4 separate regions of the Homo sapiens genome follow, and all the other regions are linked to region 1. The links come from fine-mapping of genetic effects on gene expression. A gene starts in region 1. Each other region holds a variant in brackets. All regions are shown on one strand. Distances are from middle to middle.

Region 1 (5,139 bases):
TGCGCCTGACCAGTGTCCAGCTTTTTAAGATTTATTTTTATTTCTAGAGACAGGGTCTCTCATTCTCTCGCCTAGGCTGGAGTGCAGTGGTGCAATCAGAGCTCACTGCAGCCTCGATCTCCTGGGTTCAAAGGATCCTCCCTCCACATTCTCCTGAGCAGGTAGGACAACAGGCATGCATCCCATGCCTGGCTCACATCTTCTCCCTTTCACCTTCACATGACTGGCTCCTTTTTGTCATTCTGGTATCACAGCTTAAATGTCACCTTTTTAGGAAGGCCTTCCCTGACCACCCCATGGAAAGTAGACTCTAGTCACTTCCGGTTTTATTTTCTTCAAAGCACCTCTCTGTAGCTGGTCTTGTTTATATGGTGGTCTGAATTGTTTATCCATCTGTCTATTTGCTTGCTGTCCATGGCCTCCTCCAGAGTGGGAGCTCCAGGGAACAGAGACCTTATCCACCTGTTCACAGCTGTGTCCCCAGTGCCCTGGGTCTGCAGTGCATACTTGATCTTATGGAGTGAAGAAGAGATGTGCCAGGTGATGAGGGCAGAGTGGAGGTATGTGAACAGGGAGGGTATCTCTAGAATGCACTGTGCAGGTCAAGGTGGAGAAGGAATTTGGCTTTGACACCAAGATGGGGGGACAAGAGGCTTAGCCTGAGGTACAAATGGGAAAAGGGGGAATCTAGACAACCTTGAGGGAGAAGTTTGACTAAGACAGGGAGCAGATATGTGGGGTGGGAATTAGAGGGGACACCCAGTCCATGGAGGGGTATTATCAGTACTTTTTTTGTTTTTTTTGAGACAGGGCCTCACTTTGTTGCACAGGCCGGAATGCAGTGGCGTGATCTTGGCTACTGCTCATTGGTGGGGCCAGGCCTGGCCCAGCCTCAATCTCCTGGACTCAAGTGATCCTCCCACCTCAGCCCCCCAAATAGCTGGGATCACAGGCATATGCCACCATGCTGGGCTAATTTTTAATTTTTTTGTAGAGACGGTGTTTCACTATGTTGCCCAGGCTGGTCCCAAACTCGGGGCTCAAGTGACCCTCCCACCTCAGCCTCCCAAAGTGTTGAGATTATAGGTGTGAGGCACCTTGCCTGCTTTTTGTTTGTTTGTTTGTTTTTCCCTAGAGACAGTGTCTCAGTATGTCTCCCAGACTGGCCTGGAACTTCTGGGTTCAAGTAATCCTCCCTCCTCAGCCTCCTGAGTATCACTGGGACTACAGGCCTGTGCCACTATACCCAGCTATTATCAGTATCTTTAATAGGAGGAAGACAAGAATGTTTTTAGACTGACGGTCACCAACCCAAGGAGACCAAGGAAAGCGGGGGACACCTGGAGCAGGACCTTTGAGGAGACAGGAGGGGAGGGAGCCACAGAGCCCTGGTGGAAGCATTGTCTCTGACTGCTGGAGGGCACCTGTTTCACTGTGTCCAGATGGAGGGAGAAGTGAGTGGGTGCCAGCTACAAAGGCTCATTGTATGCAGTGTGCATGGTAGGATGTGGTGGTCTGAATTGTCCATGTCACTGAGCAGCAAGACCAGCTGGTGTAAGCAGTGGGGAAGAAATGCAAGGTGGTTGGGTAGGGGCCAGGAGTCAAGCAGTAGATGTAGCTGGGAGGGAAGTAGGTGAAGCCAGGAGGGGCTGGTAGGTTGGGCGAAGAGGAAGGTATCAAGGGACTGGAGGAAGAGCAATACATAGTGGGACTGTGAAGGTGGAAAGGACTGCAGAGTCGGGTCTGACAGGGGGGCACCTGAGCTTCGGATTTCCAAGATGGAGCAGTTCTGAGGGATGACACAGCCCAGGCTTTGGCCCTGAGACCTGATGGCTGAGGTGGAGTGGAAGGTCACTGGAGATGAGATGGAGGAAGTAGGTGACCCTGTACTACACAAATTCCCTAGAGGACAGACAGGTTGAGGGTGGAGAGGAAGCCAGAAGTGAGCTTCCAGGAATTGAATGAAAGGGCCCAGGAGATTGGACAATGAGGAGGTGTGCGGGCCTCAGAGGGCAGGGGGCACACAAAGACTAACCAAGGGGAGGAAGCTGACCGCAACCGCCCCGAGGACAAGACGGGCGTCCTCGGTACAGGGCCATGTTTAGTGACGGCAGAAGGGAGAAAGGAAGCTCCTGGGAGCACAGGGGGAAGGGGAGCCGGAAGCCAGAGCCAGGGCTGGGGCCACGAAGGACAGACGGCCGGTGTTGGAGGCGGAGGCTGGCCTGGGATGTGAGGCTGGGGTTGGCCGGCCTCCAGGCTCCCCGGGAGCCCCTGCTGAAAGTCTGTGGGCGCTGGCCTGGGCGAAGCCGCGGTCCCCCGCCTGTGGGCTCAACTCTGCGCTCTGCTTCAAGCAAACGCACTAGGAGAGGAGTCAGGAGACGAGGAACTGCGGGGCCCCACCTCGCGCGGGCAACCGCTGTCTGTCCAGGGAGGGCCCAGGCCTGTCTCCGCAGATAGCTTTGAAGCAGGGCCCCCGGTGTGGCCCTCTGGAGGCCTCCCGCGTCCCCTTTTGAGGGGCTGCCCTGCTTGGCCTGGGGAACACAGCGAAGGGCACCTCGTGGAGCCCAATTTAGGGACAACACATTAATTCTGGAAATTCCAGATTCTTTCCGGGGGTCCTCAACCGGCCGGGGTCGGAAAGGCCTGGCAGGGCTCCGCCGGCAGGGGGCGCTCGGGACAGGGGGGCGAGGGGGGCGGACATCCGTTGCGGGGCGCTGCCTGCGCCGGGCCGGCCAGCCCTTGAGGCGAGCACGGCCTGCGGGGCCGATGAGGCCGGGGCCGGCCGGGGCGGGGCGGGGCCAGGGGCGGGGGAAGGAGTCCGAGGGGCGGGGCGGGGGCCGGCAGCCGCCCTCCCTCACTCTCCCTCCCTTTCTTTCTTTCTTTCTTTCTCTCCTTCTAGCTCTCTTGTCTTTTCTTTGCCTCTGCAGCGGCCAAGGGGGCGGGCCCTGCAGCCTTTGTTGCCCGCGGACCGAGCGCAGCCGAACGGAGTCGGGGCCGGGTCGCCGGGAGCTGCACGCCGGCCGGGCATGTCCTGAGCCGGACCTGGGACCAGGCAGCGACCGGACGGGACGGACGAGAGCGTGCGCGCGGGGTCACCCGGCGGCCGCCCGGTTCCTGCCATGCCCGGCGGCCCCAGTCCCCGCAGCCCCGCGCCTTTGCTGCGCCCCCTCCTCCTGCTCCTCTGCGCTCTGGCTCCCGGCGCCCCCGGACCCGCACCAGGTGGGTGTCCGCCCCTCCCCGGCCAGCCGGGCCTGCCACCCCTTCCCGCTCCCCCAGTCTCGGTTTTGTCCCTCCTCACCTTTGTGGACCCCGCGCCGGCTCCGCTGTGCCTGGAGTTGGTCGCGTCTTCCGCTCCCTGGGTATTAGGGGACAGTAGTCGGGGTCGGGCCGGGCCGGGAGCGAAGCCGCGCTTCTGGGGAAACTTCCTCGGCCCCTGATTCAGTTACTGACACTGCCTGTCGCCTGGAATAAGCCCCTTCCGCTCTTCGGGCTCCGGTTTCCCCACCTCGGGTGCAGCAACGCGCCTGGCTCCCGGGAGAGCTCTCGTCCGAGTGGGCTGGACGGAGCGCGGTTTACCCACTGAGGATTTGGTTTCTCACACTCCTTAGCGAGGCTCGCCTGGAAAGCGGGCTGGCCGGGACACAGCCGGCGAGGGCGCCAGGTCGCAGGTCTTCGCGGGACCCCGCCGCCCCCCCAGCTCCCGCCCACCGCATCTGGGCTGCTGGCGCGGCCCCTGGCGGCTCGGGGGGCCGGGTCTTGCGCGGTCCTTGCACTTCCTGCCTCTCCCTTCCCCAAGTGTGAAGACGCCGGGAGTGGAGCGGGGAGCAGGAGCTTCTTTTCCCGGCCATGGGTTAACTCTCCCCGCCCCGCCGGGCCGGCCTCCGACGAGCCTCTGGCCTGCGTCCAGACTCTTGTTTGGCGGCGACCTGCCGGGCGGCCGCGCTGCTGGCGCGTCCGACGCAGCCGGCCTGGGAATTCAGTAACCGAGGATGTAGGAGACCCCAGGCCCGGTGCTCAGGGAGCTCCCAGTCAGGGGAGCCGGTGGATAGTGGGGAGAGTCCTGCAATAGAGCCGACCGGCAGGCTTTGTAGGAGAGGAGGGGCATGAGGTTGGAGAGACTGGAAGGATGGATGGATTCTGGATGAGCTAGAAGGGCGTGGAGGGAGTGGGGCCCTCCCCTGGGGAGCATCAGTCGGGGGACTGGATTAGGGTTGCTTGCTGGGATGGGGTCGACCTGCCTCCCCACTGGAGGGATTGTGACGAGAAAGTAGTCTGGGCGGGAAGGATGGGGACATTGACTCTTGATCTTAGAGGTTTGGGAAGCCGTTGAGGGGAGCAGCTGATGAAAGCAGTGTTTTGGAAAGATTTGGTCTAGCAGCCATGCGCAGAGCGCAGAGGGAGCGAACATTTAATGAGCACCTACTGTGTGCCAGCCTCACGGGTTCTTATTTCTCATCATCTCCACAACAACCGTGCAAAGCAAGTGATGGAAAGTCCTTTTATGGACCAGCAAACAGGCTCAGAGTAGAGCGACCTGTGGGGTTGGACTCCTGAGCTTCCTGAATGAGGCTTGTGTTTTCCACTGTCCAGAGCTGGGGGCTGAGGAGGATGAACCGGGCGATGGGAATGGGAGAGCAGGAAAATGCTTCCCTCAGGACTTGGGTCCTGGCCCCCTGGCAGCTGTGGGAAGAGTTGGGTGCGGTCAACCTCGTGGGATTCTTATGAGGATTAAATGAGATATTGAATATGTCAGTTGCTCAGGCAGGACACAGTGACTACAATGTAGTGGTCATTATTTTTATTAATCTGCCAGGCCGACCCAGGACTCCCCAGATGACCTGGACCTGCTGTTTGAGGGTGGAGGCAGGCCAGGCACTCTCTCCAACCTAATCTGGGCACAAACACTCCAAGGGTGAAGTCTGTCTCTAGTGTTCCCATAGATATAGAGCATGGGGTCCTTCCTGTTCTGCACTCCCTCAGGATTGGTGACTCTGAGGCTGCTGGCCTGTTTGTCATTTTCTTTGAAGCCCAGGACCTAAGCCTGGGGCTCCTCCTACCACTGAATGTTACCTTCTTTAAGACCAAAGGGCTCATCCTGGGCTCACTTTTAGGAAAATATATCCCTTTTCCCCACTTGTG
Region 2 (5,139 bases), 55 kb after region 1:
GCAGGCTGGGGACCTCCTCCCCCTCAAAAAAGGTATTTTTTTATTCTAACAGTTTGTGTAACATTTATTATGATTTTACATAAATGAGCATCTACCATTCCAAAGCACAGCGTGACTTCGTCTTGGATTTGGAGAATCTTAAAAGTGAGAAACTCTTCCCCCCACCCCTCTGCCCAAAACTCCACCGCCACAGCACCTCGGCAGGCGTGGCTTTTCACCTGCTCCTCTGGGACAGATCTGCAGGGGGCAGCGTAGAAAATGAGTCCCTGAGAGCATGGCATCTGGTGAGGCACGGAAGGCCTCAGAAGCTGGGGGGCTGCTCCCCAGGGAGGGCTGTCTGCAGAGGGTGGGGTTCTGGGGGCAGGAAGGTCTTCCGGGCAGGGGCACGGCTTGGCCCTTACTTGCTGCCTGCCTTCAGCTCAGGCTCCCAGCCTTCCCTGGGGCCCCACTCTGTGGTCCTCAGAGACCTGTTCCACAGGGATTGAGCCCACCATGTCACTTGCAGGGACTGCCCCCTGGAGTGGTGGGGACTGGGGCCCCCATGGGGACCTCCCTGGCCCTGTCTGTTCTATCTGTTGACTCTTCTGCAAAAAGCAGGCAGAGAGGGGAAGAGCAGGCTGGCCAGCTGTGCCCTACTGTGTCCCCACGTGTCCCTTCATCTCTGTGCCCAGAGATAGGGCTGGGCTAATTGTCACTGCCTCAGGTTGGCCCCTTTCCCACCACCAGCCCCAGCTACAGGTTCCTACCACGCTGATCTATGGTCCAGCACCTGGCACCTGCCTACCCACAGCCCCTTCCCCTCCCATAAAATCTAGTCCCATGGAGCCAGACAGTAGTGCCCACAGCAGGGAACAGATGGGCATGAAGGTGCTTTGAAGAGGGTCCTGGCCTGACCAGGGGCGGGAGGCTGGGGAAGGGGCGGACACTGTCCCCCCAGGCCCAGGCCCAGCCCTGGATCCAACCCTGGCCTCTGGCTGTGAGCCTTAGACTCAGCCGTTGACAATTTCTTCCTCAGCCCTCCCCCTGGAAGGTGTTACGCCCCTTCTCCAGGTGGGGGACACTAAGGTTCAGAGAGCTCGCCCTGCAGCCTACAGGGGTCACCTCTCACATTCTACTCTCCAGCGTATGACAACCCTGGACGAAAGGTGAATGTAGCCCTGGAGCCTGCATGTGGCAGCCGCAGCCACTCAGGGCTGGGTATATGCTGGGGATGGAGGGGACACCACTGAAAATCACTCCTGGCTGGGCGCGGTGGCTCACACCTGTAATCCCAGCACTTTGGGAGGCTGAGGCGGGCGGATCACCTGAGGTCAGGAGTTTGAAACCAGCCTGGCCAATGTGGCAAAACCCCATTTCTGCTAAAAATACAAAAATTAGCCAGGTGCGGTGATGGGGACCTGTAATCCCAGCTACTTGGGAGGCTGAGGAAGGAGAATCGCTTGAACCTGGGAGGCGGAGGTTGCAGTGAACTGAGTTCGCACCTTTACACACCAGCCTGGGCGACAGAGCGAGACTCCATCTCACACAAAAAAAATAAAATAAAATTACTCCTTAGGGGCTGAGACCAAGAAACAGTATCAGAGGCTGAACCCCTCGGCGATGAGCGTCTGTCCCAGGACTTGGAAGGGAGGGAGGGAGCATGGCCACGGCAGCTGCCTGCAGGTGCGTGTCCTGCTGCTCCCCAATTCAACATGCTCACCTCATTTCACACCAACAAGCCCGATCCTCAGAGGAGGAACTCAAGGCTCTGAGAGGAAGTACCTGGCCCAAGGGCACATGCCCTGGTGACACAGGCCCATCCTAGGCTCCGACTGCCCACCTCCAAGCTCCAGGCTACCCTGAGCAGGTGGAAGAGGGAGAGGGCCCCAAGCAGGTCCCAGTGGTGGCTTTGCACAGAGAGGGCAGCCTGCCAGAGTTCACGCAGGAAAGCAAGTTGCTGGGCAAGCTAGCGTGAGTCCCAGCCCCGCTGTGCTGCCCGAGGGTGGAGGAGCGTCAGGCGTGCTTCCTGTCTGTCTGCAGCAGCCCGGCTGGCCCAAAGAGACCCTGGGGACCCACGCTCTGAGTCACGGCTTCCCAGGCCTTAGTCAGAACGGCCCCTGGTGGCACTCCCTTCCAAGGGGTGGGGAGCAGGGCCTGTCGACTTGCTCCTGACCCACACACCGAACCAGTCCCTGTCCCAGCTCTGCCGCCGCCGCTCTGCTGCGTGACTCCAGGAACCCCCAGCCTCGCTGAATCCAC[G/A]TCCCCAGAAGAGAAAAGCCTGCCAGGCCTTGGCCTGCCCTGTCTGGGAATCCTTGATGGAGCCACCCCGAAACACCCCTATGGGAACCCCTTTGGTCTTCATCATTCTTGGGTGTTTTCCACTGATGACTGGGGGTGTCCCCAGTGGCAGCTGGGCCTGAGCTGTCAGCCAAGACGGGAGACAAACAAGCCTGTGACTCAGGCAGGGCATGGCACAGCTGGCGGAAGGAGGCATGCCTGTTCTTTGTGGCTGGGCGGGGGGTTATCCGGACACAGGGAGTCTCCAGCTTCCGGCTTTCCCACCTCGGTGCCCCCAGCCCACACCTGCAGCTTGGCCATGGTTCTTGGGGCCTCCCAAGGCTGCCCCTGCTGGCAAAGGCATCCTGATGCACCCGCCCCAGGGTGAGCCAAGGGCAGAGACACCCAGAAACGCCAGGCTGGAAGGTTGGAGAGCCCCTCCTCGCCCCCCGCAACACCAATAAGCCCTGCCCCACCCTCCAAGCCCTTGGGGTGAGCCCCATCACTAGTGACTATAACTGAATTTCAATGCAGAATATTATACAAATTAGTAGTTTATTTCTTCCTTTAGTATTACAGTTCCAAAACATAACTTGAAGGTCAGCACAGGAGCTGCTGTGATATAAAAGGAGAGAGTCACCTGGCGCCCCCTGCAGTCCTCCAGTTGCCCAGCAGCGGTGGGACGCTCAGTGGCACACACTGGGTCTCTGTATGGCCTCCCACCTGCAAGGACTTCCCCGGGCAGGCCCAGCTGCCCAGAAGCCCCGGAACACACAGGAAGACAACACTATAGGATGGCAGGTGGGGATCTGTGCAATACAAACATGTAGCTAGAAAACCCAACTGAGGATCTGTCTAGAATACTTCCGATATCAATATACCGTAGTTGTTGAAACCAGAACCGTCTCCAGCCGTCAGCAGTCTTGGCGGCTACTGTACAGCTGTCAGCATGACTACAGGCAGCACCCGAGGCTATCTGGGGTAAGAAGTGGGCCTGCACATCACATCGGTGAGTCAGTGAGAGTCAGGGCCAGAGGGAAAAGCAACTCGGAGGCTGAGGCTGGCACAGATACACACAAGGGAGTCACACACATAACATAAGAACTTGTTATATAAAATAGATATGTGGAATCTAGAAACACCTTGAGAAAATAGCCTATAAAAATATAAACTGTAGTGAGAGTGTACAAAAGTATTAACAGAGGTTCAACCCATAAAAAACCCCATCCATTTAAAAGCTGGCAATTCGCAGCAGATGTGGGGAGGGAGCTCCCCTCGGTCCTGGTGCGCGCATTTGGACAGGCCTTTGGGTTTCCCAGCTGGCAGGGTCCCCCTTGCAGGGGCCACGGGCTGGGTGTTGGGGTGAAGGTTCAGAGGAGGAACAGCAGCTTGGGGCAGCCCCTGTCAGAAGGGCCCCCTGCCATGGCAGCCAGTGGAGGCCAGGGACCTTCAGGGCACTGGAGGGGACAGAGCAGCTCTTTCCTCAGTGACCCGAGGGAGGGGAAGTGTTAGCGCAAAAGAGTGGGGCCCACAGTCCTGGAAGGAGGAGTTGGCTCCGTCCCGTTCCCAAACTTTAACCAGGCGGAGCCGCCCTCTCTTGCCTTCTGGACACGCATCACTTGATTCCAGGCAGGAGAACCTCTGAGAAAGTGTCCCCAGTCCCTTTCCTCCAGGAACTCTCCTGCTGTCGCACACACACACTACCCGGCAGCTGCTGACAACTGCCTGGAAACACTAACATACCACCGTGGGTTGCAGCCACGACGGGCCCCTGGTCAGGTGCATCTCTCAGGGCAAACTGGACAACACGAGCCTGTCCCTAAAGGCAGCTCTTAGCCCCAGGACATGGCAGTGTGTGCTGGCATGTTCCAGGGGCCATTGGCTTGGAAAGTAAAACCTAAGGGCAGCTGGTGCTGGCCCACGGGCCCAGCCCCATTCCTGCTGCACCTCCTCAGCAGCCACCCCCCAGGCTGACAGCTGTCGTTTCACGATGGGCTGAGGGGTGGGGTGGGGGGTTTCCAACACTTGATTCGAGCGGACTGCAACGCCCAGCTCACAGGACAACTGAAGGAGTCAGACCTCAAATTGCTGTTCTCAAAGACAATGACAACACCCATTTTTGATGCCTGAAAAGAGGCAAAGGCTTCTGGCTAAATATAGAGGCCAGCTCCGTCTACCCAGTGAAACATTAACCAACTCCGCTAAAGACACGAAGCCGGAGCTCACTCTAGCATGTGCTGAAACACCAACTTTGCCGTGGCATTGCTAGAAAGTTGACAGCAAAAAATAATAGGAAAAAAGTACTTCTTAAAACTGCATTACTTCAATTCTTAGTCTCAGTGTGTTCGTATCAACAGAGGATGGTTTCCAGTTTTTTTCGGGTAATATGAAACATTCCACTGAGACTGTTTCTCCTGTATTTTCATAACACTGTGCCAGAAAACATCCTCTCACATCTACGCATCAGGGATGGTCTAGAGGGATTAAGCAAAAACAAGCTCCTTGCTCAAAGCCTCTCCCCAGCCTTCAGAAAGGCAGTCCTCTGAGTTCCCAGAAACTGCTGTGTCAGAGGCAACAGTGACCCTGCATCCTGGCAGAGAACAAGGATGCTTCCAGGCAGTGGTGGGGTGGGCACACATCTGGGAGAGCTCGCCCAAGCCTGCCCCAAGCAAAAAAGTTTCCCAGCCCCAGGCACTGGCAGCTGGCCTCCTGCACAACCCAGGCAGGTGGAGGAGACACCAGGAGCACTGGCCATCCCCAAGGAGGCCATGGTTTTCAGCTGTCCAAGACCGTTCACACTGCGGCTGCACCACTGCCCTGCAAAGCACCCCCGAAAACATTCCTCCATCCCCTCAACCAAGGCCAGCCCAGGCGTGGGCCTGC
Region 3 (5,139 bases), 49 kb after region 1:
AGCTGCCAGAAAGAAGCTGGCTAGTGCCCCTCCCTGGGTCCCCAGATGGTCACTGCAGGAGAAGGAAGCTTCTGTTCAGATCCCTAATTTTGGGGCGGGAAGGGGCAGGCTGAGGCCCACAGGGCTTGTTTTGCGCAGGGATACCCAGCGATTTGGCTGCTGGTACCAGGACCCAGCCTTCCTTCCCTGGTGCCTCTGGGAAGCGACGAGGCTGGTCAAGATAGCTGGTCGGGGTGCCCACAGGGTCCCCTCCCCCCACCTCTGCACCAATGACACTGGAACACAGGCCCTTTGTCCCATGTGAGCAGGGACGGCTGGTTGCTGAGGGGATTTGACTTTTCATTCTCACGGTCTTCCTGGGAGGTGGGTGAAGGAGCCTATTTTGCAAATAAGGAAACTGAGGCCCAGAAGAGGGCCCCTGTCTTGCTGAGGTCTCGCTAGCCTAGGTGGGTAGTTTCCTGGCTGTGGAGGCCTGGCGGGGATGGGATCTGCCTGGCTTTCACGGGTCTCTGCCCCGCAGTGCTCTACCACCTGTGGCCTGGGTGCGGTCTGGAGGCCGGTGCGCTGTAGCTCCGGCCGGGATGAGGACTGCGCCCCCGCTGGCCGGCCCCAGCCTGCCCGCCGCTGCCACCTGCGGCCCTGTGCCACCTGGCACTCAGGCAACTGGAGTAAGGTGCGTGAGGATGGAGCCAGGACAGGCATTCCCAGGGCATGGGGTGGAGCCCTGGTTCCCCACGGCCTGTGTTCTGAGAGCGGCAGGGAAGGGGAGGGCCCCAGGCTGCACATCTGTGTGCCCGATCACACCGGATTCTGAATCTCTTGGGAGTCTTCTCATCTTTGTCTGGCTTGGCCTGTCTCCTTTCCTCTGTATCTTTGACCCCATCTGGACTTGTCTTTCACCAGCTTGCCTTTGTTCCTCCCTTTCTCTGTCTGTCCCAGCCCGTGGCAGCCCCTGGCCATGCCACCTTTTGCCTGGGGCCTGCCAGCCTTGGCCTCTCGCTGGGGTTCTTCAGCTATTCCCCCGGGCTGGGGCGTGGGCCTGGATGCCTTTCCCGCCACACACCTCACGGGGTCACGCCTGTGGGCCTGCACATGGGGATGTGTCCATACACGTCTCTCGGTCCCCAGTGCTCCCGCAGCTGCGGCGGAGGTTCCTCAGTGCGGGACGTGCAGTGTGTGGACACACGGGACCTCCGGCCACTGCGGCCCTTCCATTGTCAGCCCGGGCCTGCCAAGCCGCCTGCGCACCGGCCCTGCGGGGCCCAGCCCTGCCTCAGCTGGTACACATCTTCCTGGAGGGAGGTGAGGCCTGGCCGTTGAGTTGGGGGGAGGGGACGCCCTCAGACCCTGGCTGTGCCCTGACTCCTTCCCTGCCCACCCAGTGCTCCGAGGCCTGTGGCGGTGGTGAGCAGCAGCGTCTAGTGACCTGCCCGGAGCCAGGCCTCTGCGAGGAGGCGCTGAGACCCAACACCACCCGGCCCTGCAACACCCACCCCTGCACGCAGTGGGTGGTGGGGCCCTGGGGCCAGGTGAGCCGGGCTGCGGGGAGGAGCAGGGAGCAAGTGCTTGGTGGCGCCTGGTCAGTCTTGGGTTGGGTGAAGGAGCTGTGGAGTGTGTGCTGTGAGCCAGGCTCTTTGTGGCCCTGTCACTGGACGAGGCCCCGCCCGGCTGGTGCTCACACCTGCCAGGGAGAAACAGACAAGGAAAGGGCGCGTGTGCTGTGGTGTCAGGGAAGGCCTTCCAAGGAGGGGTCTGGGGTTGAGACCCGAGGGAGGAGTCAGTGATGCCAAGGACAGGGATCGAAGGGACATCAGGTGTGAAGTCTGAGGCAGGAATGACGAGCTTGAGGGGGCCGGGGAGCCCGGCAAAGGCCAGCGGCAGAAGGGGGCGTAAGAGGGGCCTCAGATGGGCAGGACACCTTCTGCTGGGCCTGTTTGGAACTGAGGGGTTCAGAAATCTCAGATTTGGGCCCTGAGCTGGGTCCTGGAGTCAGCTGGGCCAGCGTTTGCGTCTTTGTCCGACTGGCTGCTGAGTGACTCTGGGCAGGTTGCTTTGCGTTGCTGGGTCACTGTTTTCTCATCTGTAAAACTGGAACAGCTTAGGAGAGGAGGGTCAGGAGGATTAAATGAAGGAACGCAACGAAGCACAGGGCCGGGCACAGCATGACACTGGCACAGACTCAGTGCATGTTTAGGGCTGATAACAACGAAGCCTGGCGGGCTGGGCCCCGGCTGTGAAACTGTCTCCTGCCCTCCTGCCCATGGGCTGCGGCAGGTCCTCTGCCCTGTCCCTCGGGCACAGCGGTGTCTCGCCCACATCTCTGCCCACTGCTGCATCAGGGCTCCATCCCGGCGCCCCTGCCCAGGCTTCTCAGGCATGTCCTGTGTGAGGGGCTCACTGCCCTGCCGCCCCGAGGGCTGTCCCACGGTTCTCACGCCCCTTCCCTCTGCAGGAGCCGATCCCACAAGTGAGAGTGGGGTTCCAGCACCAAGTGGGCTCTAGGAATGGGACCAGGTGCTCCAGGAGGCACTGAGGGGGCGGCTGGGAGCAAGGCCAGGCCAGTCAGGCACAGGGCGCAGGGACGGCTTCCCAGAGGAGGTGTCCCTGCCCCCACTGCTAGGGCTGGCCCTGGAGACACTCATTCCTCCCCCGCTCCCCTCAGTGCTCAG[G/C]CCCCTGTGGTGGTGGTGTCCAGCGGCGCCTGGTCAAGTGTGTCAACACCCAGACAGGGCTGCCCGAGGAAGACAGTGACCAGTGTGGCCACGAGGCCTGGCCTGAGAGCTCCCGGCCGTGTGGCACCGAGGATTGTGAGCCCGTCGAGCCTCCCCGTGAGTCCCCTGACCCCAGGCTCCCTGCTGAAGTGAGGTGGGGTGGGGAGGGTGATGGGGAAATGGGGTCGTCAAACCATTGTGCCCACGGCACTGGCTGGTTCCATCTGTAGTCTGGGCTCAGGAGCCACATGGCCACTGAAAATCCTGATGCCACAGGATGCCATGCTGGAGGCTGGGCTGTGCTGGGAGTCAGTCAAGGGGAGTCCCGGCCACACAACATCCCATAGGCAGCTGTCTGACCTTGGGGGAGTAGAGGGAGTGGCCCTGGCCCCTGATTTGCTGTGTGAACCTGGGTAAGCTCTTTCTCCTCTAGGTCTCAGTCTTCCCACAGTGAGACCAGGGATGTCCCTGAGGCTGTGTGAAAACTGGGCCTGGGTGAGTCCCTGTCCCCAGCCCTGGCCTGTCCATTCCCTGGCTAGAGGACTGCCTAGAGTGAGCAATGGAACCACAGGAAGGGCCTCCTTTCCAGGGTCCTGCTAATGAGGTAATGGGGTTTGAGGCAGGAAGGGCCTCCCTTCCAGGGTCCTGTTAATCCCAGTGGTGGGGGGTTTCCTGGCCAGCTGGGTCCTGGTGGAAGGGCCTGAGGTAGAGGTGGTTCTGGACACCCCTGCCGCCGCCTCCAGCATGTGTGCGTGCGCGCACACACACACACACGCCAACACACACACACACAGTCATACACTTCCTTCCTGCAGCCCCAGCTGCTCCCGGAAGTGCTGAGGGCAGGAAATGGGGTGGCCCTGGAGTGTCACCTAGGCTCCCCTCACCAGCTGTGTGGCCTTGGGCTCCATTTCCCTCTCAGGGCCTTCATGTGCTGAATAAAGGGGCTGCCAAGCCCCATCCTTGCATAAATGAGGTCTGGGCATGAAGCACGCAGCACTGCGTGGGGATCCAGGTGGTGCTCAGGGAAGGTGGCTTTTTCCCCTCCCCCACAGCCACTGTCATCCCCAATTGCAAGGTCAGGGAGAGGGCCTGGGGCTGACCCTGCCAGTCTAAGGAATCCAGAAGCCGTGGCGTGAAGAGCTGTGTCCCCTGTGCTATTGGCTGTCTGCTCCCTGCCCCTAGGACAGAGTCCTCAGCCAGGGCCCTCAAGCTGGCATTCAGGGCCCCCTGCAATCTCCCCGGTCTGCCTTCTCCCCTTGTCCAACGCTGCCTTCTCTACCTGTGCCAGCTCCTGGGCAGCCCTCATTCAGGCTCAGAGTGGCCCCTGCCATGCCTCGCTGCCCTGCCTCTGGCATGGGTGGTCTTCCTGCCTCAAACCTCAAGGCCCAGTGGCAGCGCCCCCACCCTGTCCTGCCTGCCCTCAGCACGCACCCAGCCAGCATCTCAGAGCACTCCTATGTGCTACCTGAGCTGGGTGCTGGCACCACGTCTCTCACCTTTATGGCTAGGGCTGGCCACAGGGAGCGGGGTGGTTATGATCCCAGTGGGGGAGGACCAGATGGGGCAGAGAACAGAAACTGAGGCCCCTGGGGGCCTAGAACCAAGGACGGATGGCCCAGGAGGCTCTGGGCTTGCAAGGTCTCCCAGGGGCGGGTGTGAGTGGGCTGCAGGGAGTGGGCTATGGGGGCTGGTTAGGTGGCTGAACTAGAAGCTGTCCTAAGTGAGGAGTTTTCTGCCATCAGTGAACAGTGGAGGGGGGCTGGGAAGGTGTCTTGGACTTGGAGACCTGGAATTCCCAGATGTTCTGCTGGTCTGTGGGACAGTTGGCGGGACATGTGGAAAGCTGGGAAACTCGTGTGTGTGTGCTCACTGCAGTGACACAGCATGGCCACATCCATTTGCTGTGGAGGTGGGGTTGACAGAGGAGGGAACCGAGGCCCAAGAGGTGAAGCAGCTTGTCTGAGGTCACCCCGGGCGACCAGGATGCAGGCCTGCAGATGTGCACTTTGGAGCTCTGCCTGGAGCTGGGGTGGAGGAGCCTGCCTGCTGCCTCGTGCCCTCTGCCGGGCCTGGGGGATGTCCCAGGCCCAGGGCTGGCTGCTGCCTTCCTGCTCCTCCTCCCCAGGGAGGTCTGCTGGAGTAAGCAGGGCCCGGGTGGCAGCTGGGGGCTGTCAGCAGTGGCAGTGGCATCAGGAGCAAGGCCAGGAGGCTGGAAACAAGCCACTTCCCAAAATAGCTCTGATAACCACGGGGCAGGAGGGCCCAGCCAAGCCTCAGCCCTGACAAGCACAGCCTGCAGCTGGCCTCCCTCCCCAGCAGGCTGGGCTCAGTCTCTGGTTTCCGCTGACGGCCTGTAAGGCCCACTCACTCTAGGCTTCGTGGCCCACCTGAGAAGTGGGAGGCTGGCCTGGGAGATGGGACCCTGTGA
Region 4 (5,139 bases), 33 kb after region 1:
ATGCAGTCCTCGTGGGTCTGTAGGAATGGGGAGAGGGCCACCAAGCCCTCCTGGGGTCAGGAACAGTGACTCGGAGAAGGAGCCTGCCTTCTAAAGGCCAGCTTCCACGCCGAGGAAGAAGGGTGCTGCTGTAAGTGGAGGGCAGGCTGGGCAGAGGCCGGGGCCATGCGAGTATAGGGTGGGGCAGAAGAACCCTCAGGAGGTGGTGGGGGGGCACTGGAGGGTAGCTTCTGGAGCTTGTCCAAGAGGGTTGACCTGAAGAACTCTAAGAACCTTTCCGGACTGACAGGTGCTTTAAGGGACCCTGGGGAGAGGTCACAGCATTTCACCAGTGTCAACTTGGACCTGGGTGGGGAGGAGGGGAGGCCCTGGTCCCTGCTTTCCTCAAAGCCAGCATTTCTACAGGGAGAGAGGCAGGCTGGGTCACATGTGGGGTCCTTCACTTCACCCCGTGGACCCCCCATTCAGTGACTCCATGACCAGATCCCTGGGGTGGCCAGGGGTGGCCAGGGGAGCGGGCCCCCAGGTCTCTCCTGTCAGTGGCAGGCAGCTCTTTGCAGTCTCAAGGTGAGAGTGAGGCTTCTGACTGGAGTCACCTACTGTCTCCTTTGACCTCTTGTGGGACTGCCCAGCCCCGCTATAATTAGCTTAAGGAGGGGCGTGGAGGGGAAGGGCTGACGGGTTTGGGGATCCGGGTGTGTCGGCAGCGCAGAGGACCTGGCAGTGAGCCTGCCAGAGGAAGGAAGGGCTGGCTGCCGGCCGCCTGTGTGATTTTTCCCAAGAAGACACTGCTATTTATACCCCTGTAGCTTGGGATCAGCCTCTTGTAGATGAGGACGTGAAGGCCCAAGGCCACACAGCATCTATAGCCAGGCAAAGAGTAGAACTTGGGTTTCTGACTCCCAAGACAGCACCTCGGCCTGATTCTCACAGTGGATTCTGTGAGGGTCGCCTCATGCTCCCGACTTCTCCCACACACCCAGGGTGGGCTGAGAGGTTGTTGTGGCTTCAGCTGCCCAACAGCAGGCCCGCAGGAGCCACATGTGCAGCGAGTCAGCACTGGGGCAGCCAGGAAGCAGAAGGGCTGGGCTGCAGCCCAGGGACTGTTGGTGCTGGGATGAGGTGCATTGGACCCCTCAGCCCCAGGGTCAGAGGACCCCCTGGCTGGGATGGGTGAGCCCCCAGTCTACCTCCTCGAGCCACAGAATGCTAGCGGGAAGGAGGGAGCCCAGGGCCAGCTGACCCCACCACCCGCCGCTGATACTCTGCCCCGGGTGCAGGCCCAGGGAGGCTCAGGGAGCCCCAAGCCGCAGGAGCACTTGGGACACTCCTTTCTCCCCACCAGGTCTCGCTGCCATGGTTTTGAACTTGTATGTGGGGTGAAGTATTTGAGGCCAGGCTCGCAGTTGAATGGGAGGAGCCCTGCACTGGGGGTAGCCCAGTGAGTAGACACAGCCTGGTGCAGGCAGCCTGGGCCTGGCTCCAGATCCTGGCCATCACATCTCTCTTGTGCGACCCGGGGCCAGTGACCTATGGGCCCTGAGTGCATGAGGGGAGATGATGGTAGAGTCTGCCCAGGATGTTGTGAGGAGCAAATGAGAGGGTATGCCCCCAGCACCCTGGACCAGCCTGGCATGTGATCATCTTGGGCACTAGGACTGCATCCAGCAGCTGCTCATCTGCCAACGCCCATGTTAGAGGATCTGTTTCCAGCCAGCATGGGCAGTCTGAGTGATTCCAGGAGGATTCCAGGGTTCTCAGTAGAAGTCTGGTCACCTTGGCTTTCTTCTCCGCAGCTCTGGGCAGGGCCGGGGGCCTGTCACTGGTCGGGGGATTTAGGAGACCACGCAAACACCCACTCCACTCTGGATCTCCAAGCTGCCAGGCCCCCTCCTCTGAAATCAGGGCTTCGGGAGTCCATGGTCTGATCCACCCTCCCAGCCTCTCTCCACACCTGCCTTCAGTGGTCTTGGCCCTGTTTCCTGACCCTTTCGTGTTCTCCCAGCCTCTCCACATCTCGGAGTGTCTCTTTCTCTCCCTGCTGGACTCCAGGATCTATCACCTTTGCCCTTCTTCCCTGTGCAACCCCCTGCCTGTCCCAATCAGGACTGTATGCTCATCCTGACCCTCTGTCCTGGCGCCACCTGCCCTGAGGCCACCCAGACTGGAGAACTGGAGGGTTTGTGCCTCCCCATCTCCTCTGCCTGGCTAGAGGCCCCAGGTCCCGCGGGTCCTGCCTCCCTCCATTGTTTCTGCCCAAGTCGTGGCTGCCTGGGTCGTCCCCAGCCCTGCAAGTCTGTGTGGCTCAATTCTCCCCAGCCACTGCTGCCCCCAGAAGGCAGCAAACCTTCCTCCAGTTCCTCCAGGACAGCAATGAGCCATGGGCAGGGTGGTCAGCATGCCAGGGCACTCCTGCTGCTAAGCCATAGTGGTGGCCACCTAAGGTCCAGCAGGGGCAGCAGGCTGGTCACTGGTCCCAGAAGCAATAGCATGCCTGAGGGTTGTACAGAGTGAGGCAGGGGCAGAAGCGGGTGCCAGAAGGGACTGGGCCGCCCTCCCCAGGGTCCCTGCTTCCATGCTTCCTGCCTCATGGTGTTGTGTCTGAGCAGCCTTGTCTTCACCACACCACAGCAGCAGGAGTGTGTGGTGGACACAGATGGCGCCTGCTTGTGTCTGCCAGTTTCCCCGCTACCGCTGCCAGGGAATGCCAGCTGGAGGAAGGCAGGAGTAGATAGGGTATGACAGAGGCCGGAGGCCAGCCCTGTCGGGGTGTGGGGGAAACGGGACAGGCATGGTTGCCCTGGGCTCTCTCCCAGGGGAGGGGCTGCTTTCCAGACCTCGCCTTTCCACAGATGACCCAAGGTCTCTGCCTGGGTGGGGCCGTC[G/A]GAGGCTCTGTTGTGTCAACTGTGATGTGATGTTCTCCGGATCCTTGTCGGGCCTGGCTCCAGGGTCTGGGCTCAGACACGGAGGCTGCAGGGTCGGAGAGCAGGGCCACATGACGGCTTGGTGGTCCAGGAGGCCTTCTGAGGGAAGGGCCCTGGCAGCGTGTGCGGAGGCCTGGGATTGGGGTTGGGATTGTTTAGCCAGCTGGAGTGCCCAGGAGGTGAGATGAGAGAGGCCGGGAGGGCCTGTGCTGCTGGCTGCAGGTGGAGGATCGGCTGAGCCGAGCGGGGAGGCTGGAGTTTCCTACAGTTGTAGGGCTCTGTGCCCCCTCCCACCTCTCCTCCTGTCCCGGCCCCACCAAGGCTTCTCCGATGGGTCTCACAGGCTGCGCCCCCCTCCATCCTCCCGTCCCATCTTTAGCCGTGGGTGGGGCCTGTGCCTGGACGACCCTCCTGCCAAGGACATTATCGACTTCCCCTCGGTGCCACCTGGCGTCCTCTATGATGTAAGCCACCAGTGCCGCCTCCAGTACGGGGCCTACTCTGCCTTCTGCGAGGACATGGATGTGAGTGGGGCCGGTGTGGGTGTGGGGGTGTGGGGACCCGGCAGGAGGGCTCAGGGGGCAGCTCTCACCAGCCCGTGGATGCCAGCCTGGGAGCAACCTCTCCTGGCCTGGGCTGCGCCCCTGAGTGACACTGTGAGACGTCAAGTGGCCTGTGGGAGAGGCCAGGGATGGGCGGCCACAGACCCAGCTCTGAATTCTGGGTCAACCATGGACCAACTGTGACCCTTCGGACAAGTCCCTTCGCCTCTCTGGAGCTGGCTTATAAGAGGGAAAAGGAACCCCTGTGGAGAGGGTCTGTTTATCCTGGCGAAGATCGCCTGAAGTGATCTTCTAACAGGAGTGTTTCCAGAGGAGGGGCTGGGCCGGGAGAGGTGTGGACAGCTGGGGACCGCTCTGAGCAGCGCAGCCCCGGGCGCCCCACACCACCACATGGTCCGGGGAGGAAGGTGGGAGCAGGCACACAAGAAGGAACCTCTGGGGGTCTGTGGGCCCCTGCCATGTGGAGGGGTGCCCAGGGGACCCTTGGGGACAGGGAGGGGGGCAGGGTGGGTGGCGGCACTGGGGAGGGTGTGAGGGTATGGCCCATGCCCTCCTCCTCGCAGAATGTCTGCCACACACTCTGGTGCTCTGTGGGGACCACCTGTCACTCCAAGCTGGATGCAGCTGTGGACGGCACCCGGTGTGGGGAGAATAAGGTAGGGGATGTCCCCAGTCCCGGCAGTGGGTGTGTGAGAGGCCAGACTTCCTGCTGTGACCAGGCCCTGGGGTCAGCCCCGGCTCACAGTCTTGCTTGTGCTCCTAGCAGAGCCCCACGCTCTCTGCAGCCCAAGCCCCCATCTGCAAAGTGGAGGCATTGGGGCCAGGGCTTGATTCCATGATTCCCCAGGGTGTCTTCAGCTGAGTCAGCATGTGGGCTGTTTTACTCCCCGCTCAGCTCCTCCATGTGGCCTGGGTCACAGATGATTGTGATGATTGTGAGGGTGCCTCTCTCACCTTCCATCCTTCCCCTCTGTGCCTTTCGCAGCCTTCCCACCCACCTTGTTCTCACTAGGGTGAGGATGACTGATAGACTTGGGGGTGGGGTGGCTCTACCTCCGTCTGTCTCAGTAGTGGTGTCTCAGTGGGGAGTGCGTACCCGTGGGCTTCCGGCCCGAGGCCGTGGATGGTGGCTGGTCTGGCTGGAGCGCCTGGTCCATCTGCTCACGGAGCTGTGGCATGGGCGTACAGAGCGCCGAGCGGCAGTGCACGCAGCCTACGTGAGTGTGGGGCCCAGGGTGCCCTTGGGCAGTGGGACAGAGGGACCCAAACAGTCAGCCGATTGCAGGAGCTTGGCTCTGTCCCAGCCCCTGGCTCTTAGAAGTGTCCTGATAATGGTCAGTCCGAGTGTCCAGGCCACCTTAAGTCACTTTCAAGGAGTGTTCTGGGGGCTGACAGGGTCCCCACTTCTGACCCCTTTCCAGAGAGGGGGACACTGAGGCCCAGAGACTAGAGAGACTCATCAGAGGCCACATGGCAAAGCAGCTGCTGGCTGGAAGGAGGCAGGAGAGGGCAGTGGGGAAGAGCATGGGCCCTGGACCTTAGATGGCTCAGGGTTCGAATCTCCTCTTCACCCCTTCTCTGGGCCTCCATTTCCCCATCTGTATAATAGCAGTGCCCATCCAGTAAAGTTGTAGTCAGGGGCAAATGCAGTT

Direction of the effects. Positions count from the first base shown, and alleles are read on the strand shown. Sizes are in standard deviations (SD) of each study's normalised expression. Not every link is listed here.
In carriers of allele A in region 2, the expression in monocytes after Pam3CSK4 of the gene that starts at base 2,876 in region 1 tends to be higher than with G alone (large effect, 1.1 SD a copy in Quach 2016).
For the expression in lymphoblastoid cells of the gene that starts at base 2,876 in region 1, C is the low allele of the variant in region 3 and G is the other (moderate effect, 0.75 SD a copy in GEUVADIS).

Evidence for each region. PIP is the estimated chance that this variant, and not a neighbour inherited with it, causes the effect.
Region 2: its variant is the best candidate, but not a certain one, in a credible set for the expression of ADAMTS7 in monocytes after Pam3CSK4 (Quach 2016, PIP 0.77).
Region 3: its variant is the best candidate, but not a certain one, in a credible set for the expression of ADAMTS7 in lymphoblastoid cells (GEUVADIS, PIP 0.88).
Region 4: its variant is the best candidate, but not a certain one, in a credible set for the expression of ADAMTS7 in lung (TOPMed, PIP 0.82).

What each region holds. Positions count from the first base shown.
Region 1 is chr15:78,809,201-78,814,339 of GRCh38, reverse strand. ADAMTS7 (ADAM metallopeptidase with thrombospondin type 1 motif 7) reads left to right here and starts at 2,876. Exons shown (of 24, transcript NM_014272.5): 1 at 2,876-3,219. The coding sequence starts at 3,120. RefSeq lists a silencer at 2,429-2,848.
Region 2 is chr15:78,754,171-78,759,309 of GRCh38, reverse strand. It overlaps LOC112268143 (a long non-coding RNA gene), which reads left to right and starts at 1,565. Exons shown (of 2, transcript XR_002957697.1): 1 at 1,565-1,662; 2 at 2,828-3,346. It overlaps ADAMTS7 (ADAM metallopeptidase with thrombospondin type 1 motif 7), which reads left to right. Exons shown (of 24, transcript NM_014272.5): 24 at 1-104. RefSeq lists enhancers at 1,379-2,183, 2,299-2,508, 2,184-2,988. The variant G/A (reference allele first, on the strand shown) is at 2,239.
Region 3 is chr15:78,760,089-78,765,227 of GRCh38, reverse strand. ADAMTS7 (ADAM metallopeptidase with thrombospondin type 1 motif 7) reads left to right here. Exons shown (of 24, transcript NM_014272.5): 20 at 521-673; 21 at 1,129-1,302; 22 at 1,383-1,529; 23 at 2,663-2,825. Among named protein-coding and RNA genes, the nearest start is that of ADAMTS7, 49 kb to the left of the region's middle. The variant G/C (reference allele first, on the strand shown) is at 2,670.
Region 4 is chr15:78,775,753-78,780,891 of GRCh38, reverse strand. ADAMTS7 (ADAM metallopeptidase with thrombospondin type 1 motif 7) reads left to right here. Exons shown (of 24, transcript NM_014272.5): 9 at 3,304-3,448; 10 at 4,051-4,143; 11 at 4,559-4,704. Among named protein-coding and RNA genes, the nearest start is that of ADAMTS7, 33 kb to the left of the region's middle. The variant G/A (reference allele first, on the strand shown) is at 2,886.